Homo sapiens: one gene and its partner. Changing the gene in region 1 together with any one later gene gives a genetic interaction. Each region holds a gene or a part of one and is shown on either strand. Other genes may lie near its edges.

Region 1 (3,500 bases):
AGAATAAGAAGTTACTCAAAGGAAATATATTATGAAACAAAGGTGACTGAATACCTAATTATCTTGATGAGCTCACTCATGTTGACATGGTCAGGTACAAGGAACTTTGTTTTATCCAGAACAGGAAGCTGCTTCTCACCCTTGTATCGTTCTATTATCACCTGGAAAAGAAGCCAGAAGTGATTTTAAAATAGTCATCAGGGCCAGGCGCGGTGGCTCACACCTGTAACCCCAGCATTTTGGGAGGCCGAGGCGGGCACATCACGAGGTCAGGAGACTGAGACCACCCTGGCTAACATGGTGAAACCCCATCTCTACTAAAAATACAAAAAAAAATTAGCCGGGCATGGTGGCGGGCGCCTGTAGTCCCAGCTACTCAGGAGGCTGAGGCAGGAGAATGGCGTGAACCCGGGAGGTGGAGCTTGCAGTGAGCCGAGATCGCGCCACCGCACTCCAGCCTGGGTGACAGAGCGAGACTCCATCTCAAAAAAAAAAAAAAGTCATCAGGCTGGGCATGGTGGCACATGCCTGTAATCCCAGCACTTTGGGAGGGTGAGGCCAGCAGATCACCTGAGGTCAGGAGTTCGAGACCAGCCTGGTCAACATGGCAAAACCCCGACTCTACTAAAAATACAAAAATTATCCAGGTGTGGTGGCAGGTGCCTGTAATGCCTTCCAGCTACTCGGGAGGCTGAGACAAGCTTGAACCTAGGAGGCGGAGGTTGCAGTGAGCTGAGGTTGCGCCACTGCACTCCAGCCTAGGGCATAGAGCTAGACTGTCTCCAATAAATAAATAAAATAGTCATCAACAATTAAAAATATACAAAATGCCTCCTACAGTCTAACTGGCACATGCCAAAATGGGCTTTGAAACAGCACATTCACTAGTTTCCTCATAGCTCTCCTGTGAAGAGTGATCATTTGCTAGCTTAGACATCTACCCCTTACAAAATATAGTACAAGAGAGACAATATGTCTGCCGTCAGGTAGGAAGTGGGGGAAGATACTTGGCTATGTATCCTTTCATTCTGTTTCAGTTTTGGAACCATGAAAAATACATACCTAGTCAGAAAAAGACCTCAAGCCTTACCGAGGCAGAGAGGCTGGGAACCAGCTTCAAGCACAAAACATCTGAAACTCTCAATTCCAAAACTACCATATCCTGAGACATGGCTGAAGTTTTTTTTTTTTTTTTTTTTTTTTGAGACAGAGTCTTGCTCTGTCGCCCAGGCTGGAATGCAGTGGCACGATCTTGGCTCACTGCAACCTCCGACTCCCGGGTTCAAGCAATTCTCCTGCCTCAGCCTCCTGAGTAGCTGGGATTACAGGCACCCGCCACCACGCCCAGCTAATTTTTGTATTTTTAGTAGAGATGGGGTTTCACCATGTTGGTCAGGCTGGTCTCGAACCCCTGACTTCGTGATCCACCCGCCTCGGCCTTCCAAAGTGCTGGGATACAGGCGTGAGCCACCGCGTCCGGCCAGCTGAAGTTCTAATGAAAGTAAATGCATGTGTTTTGGGAGCCACGGTGACTCAGGCTGGTTGTTCTGGTGCATAAGGAGGTGAGGCTATGCGTTCCAGGCCCACCTGGGAAACATAAAAACCTTTCATCCATTAAAAAAAAAAAAAAAGTAAATGCCTGTGTTTTAATAAATGTGTAAGTTCCTAATTATAGTAATATGCTCAATGTTTTTCCACACTAGAGACTGTCTAGTTGACATGAAAAAATTATATTTGACAAGGCAAGTAGAGTCCATTATTAGCTGGTTCTAGAGACAAAGTTTTGTGCATAATGACCTGGTACTTTCATTCTGATAACATATTTCTTTAAATGAGGTTAAAAATACAAATATTTGAGGCCAGGTGCGGTGGCTCACGCCTGTAATCCCAGCATTTTGGGAGGCCAAGGCAGGCAGATCATGAGGTCAGGAGACTGAGACCATCCTGGCTAACATGGTGAAACCCCGTCTCTACTAAAAATACAAAAAAAATTAGCCGCGCATGGTGGTGGGCGCCTGCAGTCCCAGCTACTCAGGAGGCTGAGGCAGGAGAATGGCGTGAACCCGGGAGGTGGAGCTTGCAGTGAGCCGAGATCACGCCACTGCACTCCAGCCTGGGTGACAGAGCGAGACTGCATCTCAAAAAAAAAAAAAAAATTTTATACACACACACACACACACACACACACACACACACACACACACGTATTTGAACTACACAGGGAACACATATAGTTTCATATTATGAATTTAAATAAAGCCATCAGGCCGGCGTGGTGACTCACGCCTGTAATCCCAGCACTTTGGGAGGCCGAGGTGGGCGGATCATGAGGTCAAGAGATCAAGACCATCCTGGCCAACATGGTGAAACCCTGTCTCTACTAAAAATACAAAAATTAGCTGGGCGTAGTGGCACGTGCCTGTAGTCCCAGCTATTCAGGAGGCTGAGGCAGGAGAATCACTTGAACCTGGGAGGCGGAGGTTGCAGTGAGCCGAGATCGCGCCACTACACTCCAGCCTGGGCGACACAGCAAGACTCCGTCTCAAAATAAATAAATAAATAAATAAATAATCCATTGGCTCCTCACTATGCTTCCTTTCCATGGAGCAAAATATTTTGTTTTTTTTTAGTTTTAAGCTGTTATAATACCTGACCACAGATGAGCCTCTGAGTCTCATTAGTGTCTGTGTTTACTGAACGCTGCGGACATCTTTTCTATATACAGTAATTCTTCCACCCTGTCACAACAAAGAGAAGTTGAGTGGCAGGAATGGGAAATCTTTACATGCTTCTTTGGGAAAGAAAAATGCTTATTTGTACATTGTTCTATTGTGTGAGACCTACATAGGGTTCTGTGTAAGGCCGAGTCAAGCTGTCATCACTTTCCTTGGTAAGTTTGAGAGCTTTATCTAGCGGACACGTTCTGAAGTGTGATATCCACAAGGAAATATCAGTGTGTAGGCTCCACCTGCCTGAGTTTAAGTGGTAGCAGAAATTAGAGGCAGTACAGAAATCTTGGCACCTGAGGCCAGCCAGTGGCTCATGCCTATAATCCCAACACTTTGAGAGGTCAAGGTGGAGGATCATTTGAGCCCAGGAGTTTGAGATCAGCCTGGGTTGTTAAACATAGCAAGACCCTGTCTCTACAAAAAACTTAAAAAATTAGCCAGGTGTAGTGGTGTGTGCCTCTAGTCAGAGCTACTCAGGAGGCTGAGGAGGGAGGACTGCTTGAGCACAAGGTGGCTGAGACTGCACTGAGCTACGATCGCACCACTGCACTCCAGCCTGGGAAAGAGAGTGAGACCCTGTCTCTTAAAAAAAGGATACCTCTCTCTAGGTTGTGAAACTGACACCCAGGGTTTGGCTGTCTGGTGATTCCTGTAAAAACCCGTCAAGTGGATGCACTTATGCGGTGCTCTCCTCTGCGTACATTCATGACTGAAACCGAGGCCTGAGACTACCTACCGGGATTTTGGTTGGATGCTGCTCTCGAATAAGTC
Region 2 (3,500 bases), on another chromosome or scaffold:
TTCAGAGTGAGTGAGTGTGTGCATGCATGCATATGTTATATGTATCCTGGATTGCATGTGTAAATTTATTTCTTACTATGGCTCATGGTCAAGGAACTTTGAAAAAATACCAAAGATAGGCCATGCGCGGTGGCTCACACCTGTAATCCCAGAAGTTTGGGAGGCCAAGGCGGGCACATCACCTGAGGTCAAGAGTTCGATACCAGCCTGGCCAACATGGTTAAACCTCATCTCTATTAAAAATACGAAAAAATTTAGCTGGGCGTGGTGACATACACTTGTAGTCCCAGCTACCTGGGGAGGCTGAGGCAGGAGAATCGCTTGAACCCAGGAGGCGGAGGTTGCAGTGAGCCAAGATCACGCCACTGCACTCCAGCCTGGGTGATGGAGGGAGACTCTATTTCAAAAAAAAAGAAAAAGAAAAATTACCAAAGATAGTGCTGATACACTAGGTCAAAAAGCACTAGCACGAATAGGTCCCAGAAGAAGTAAAAGATAAATACACACCCATGTGTGCAAGTGCATTTGTGGCAGTGTTAATTTGTTGTTGTTTTTTGAGATGGAGTCTCACTCTGTCACCCAGGCTGAAGTGCAGTGGCGCGATCTCGGCTCACTGCAACCTCCGCCTCCCAGGTTCAAGCAATTCTCCTGCCTCAGCCTCCCAAGTAGCTGGGATTACAGGCACACACCACCACGCCCGGCTAATTTTTGTATTTTTTAGTATAGATGGGGTTTCACCATGTTGGTCAGGCTGGTCTCAAACTCCTGACCTCAGGTGATCCACCCTCTTCAGCCTCCCAAAGTGCTGAGATTACAGGCATGTGCCACCGTGTCCAGCTGCAGTGTTGATTTTAACAGCAATAAAAGCATAGATTGATCCAAATTATCAAGAAGAGGGACAGATTATATCAACTCAAGTAAATCCACAACATGGAATAATCATAGAGCCACAAGAAAGCAAGCTGTAGAAAACTACAGACAATTTCGTTAAGTAGGAAATGCAGGCATAAAACCATATATATGTGATATGTATATAACCCACTTTTGTAAAATATAGATGTTGTATATGTGTGACACAGATATAAACACACACACAAAAGAATGGCCATACAAACACCAACATGGTAACAGAGGTTATCCACCAACCCTGTGACTGTGGGTGATTGTGTTTTTTTCTGTGCACTTCTTTGTTTTCTGTGATTATATTGGTGGGGCAGCGGGGATGGACACAATGATTATATTGGTGGGGGATCACAGGAAAATAAATATTTGTTAAGAAAGCGTTTAGAGTAATCCTGGAGATAACCCAAAAGTTGCAAATGGAAGTGGGAGATACATGAGGAGTATTTCTGACCTCTAAAGGTAATTACCATACTTTTTCATAGGACAGATTCACAGATGATGACACTTCCATTTTTATAGCACTTTGCAGTTCACAAATTGCTTTTACGTACAGCATCTTAACAACCCCAGGAGGTCTGCGGGGAACGCCTGTACATAAGATCTCTTAGTAGGAAAGGACAGTCAAGGACACCTGTCAGTACCATGTCAGAGATTGAACCTGGGCTGGGACTGAACCAGAGGGACATTTTAGAGGCTTTTTAAATTTTTTTTTTGGAGGCAGGGTCTTGCTTTGTTGCCCAGGCTAGAGTGTAGTGGTGTGACCACGACTCACTGCAGCCTCAACCTACTGGGTTTAAGCCTCAGCCTCCTGAGTAGCTGGGACTACAGGCACGAGTCACCATGCCCGGCTAATTGTTTTTACTTATTTTATTTTTTTATAGACAGGAGGGTCTATGTTGCCTGGGCTGGTCTTGAACTCCTGACCTCAAGCAATCCTCCTCCTCAGCCTCTCAAAGTGCTGGGATTACAGGTGTGAGACACTACACCAGCCATTTTAGAGACTTCAGTAAAAACCACAGGACCATTCTACATGGTTTCAGATCAGCCAACTAGGATAGCAGCCTAAAAGGCAGACCTCACTAGAACAACCCAGTCTACCCCTGGGGAGAAGATGAATATTCCTTACCCACAGAACCACCAGTAGACAACTGACAGAACTCAAACAGGCCATCGAATACTGGACAGTCCTCACCAACGTTGACTTGAAAGAAATAAGCAAAAGGTTAGTTTCCACAATTTCCTTTAGTTTACATATTTATGAGCTGATGGAAAAAAACACAGAATTTAAATTCAGGAGGTGTGGGTTCTAGTCCAGGCTCTACTTCCTGGCTGTATGACTGCATCAAGTTGTTTAACATCTTTGAGCTTTAGCCCATTATTATTTTTTTATTTTTTAGAGCCAGGGGCTTGCTCTGTTGCCCATGCTGGAGTGCAGTGGCACAAACATGGCTCATGTGCAGCAGCTTTGACCCTCACCTCCTGGGCTCAAGCAATCCTTCCACCTCAGTCTCCCAAGTACTTTGGACTACAGGTGCATGCCACTATACCCAGCTAATTTTTTTTTCTTTTTTTTTTTTTTAGAGACAGAGCCTCACTATGTTCCCTAGGCCTCATGCAGTCTTCTTGCCTTGGCCTCCCAATAGGCATGTGCCATCACACCTGGTCTTAGCCCATTATCTATAACAAGCAAAACTGATATCCCACCTCACCCACTGGTCAGAAAATTAACAAAAATCTAATATGGAGAAGCAGTTAGCAACTTGGAAAATGTTGGTTCGTTTCTTGAGGGAGAAAAACTTATCCTCTGGCCCTCACGCCAGCTGACAAACAAGGGGCAAGAACAGAGACCCAGAGAACTATCGTTCACTGCGCACGTACAACACGCCAGACACTGCGCTACATGCGTTAAATACCCGAGATCATTCATCTTCACACAAGCTTCTGAGGTAAGATTTGGTCCCATCTTATAAGTAGGGAAACAAGGCCTGGCACAGTGGCTCACACCTGTAATCCCAGCACTTCGGGAGGCTAAGGCAGGAGGACCACTTGAGGCCAGGAGTTCAAGACCAGCCTGGGCAACATGGAGAAACCCCATCTCTACCAAAAACATAAAAATTAGCCAGGTGTGGTGGCAGCTGCCTGTAATCCCGGCTACTTGGGAGGCTGAGGCACAAGAACCACTTGAACCCGGGAGGCAGAGGTTGCAGTGAGCTGAGATCGCGCAACTGCACTCCAGCCTGGGCGAGACAAGAGTGAGACCCTGTCTCAAAAAAATAAATAAATAAATAAGTAGGGAAACAGGTTCAGAGAGGTGAGCTGTTAGTAAATGGCAGAAGCAGTATGCAAGCCTCAAGCTTTGGTTTGTCTGTTTTTTTTTTGAGACGGAGTTTTGCTCTTGTTGCCCAGGCTGGAGTATAGTGAAGTGATCTTGGCTCACTGTAATCTCTGCCCTCCAGTTTCAAGCCATTCTCCTGCCTCAGCCTCCCGAGTAGCTGGGATTACAGGTACCTGCCACCACACCTGGCTGATTTCCGCATTCTTAGTAGAGACGGGGTTTCACCATGTTGGCCAGGCTGGTCTCAAACTCCTGACCCTGT

What was found. A genetic interaction does not mean that the proteins touch.
Region 2: of MAP1LC3B (region 1) and HDAC1, a change in one rescues a mutant of the other (synthetic rescue), as found in Homo sapiens cells (one study listed by BioGRID).

The regions. Positions count from the first base shown.
Region 1 is NC_000016.10:87,398,836-87,402,335, reverse strand, and holds part of MAP1LC3B (microtubule-associated protein 1 light chain 3 beta), read right to left. Parts: coding exon 3,466-3,500; intron 162-3,465; coding exon 55-161; intron 1-54.
Region 2 is NC_000001.11:32,323,083-32,326,582, reverse strand, and holds part of HDAC1 (histone deacetylase 1), read right to left. Parts: intron 2,105-3,500; coding exon 2,030-2,104; intron 1-2,029. UniProt on the Homo sapiens protein: Histone deacetylase that catalyzes the deacetylation of lysine residues on the N-terminal part of the core histones (H2A, H2B, H3 and H4).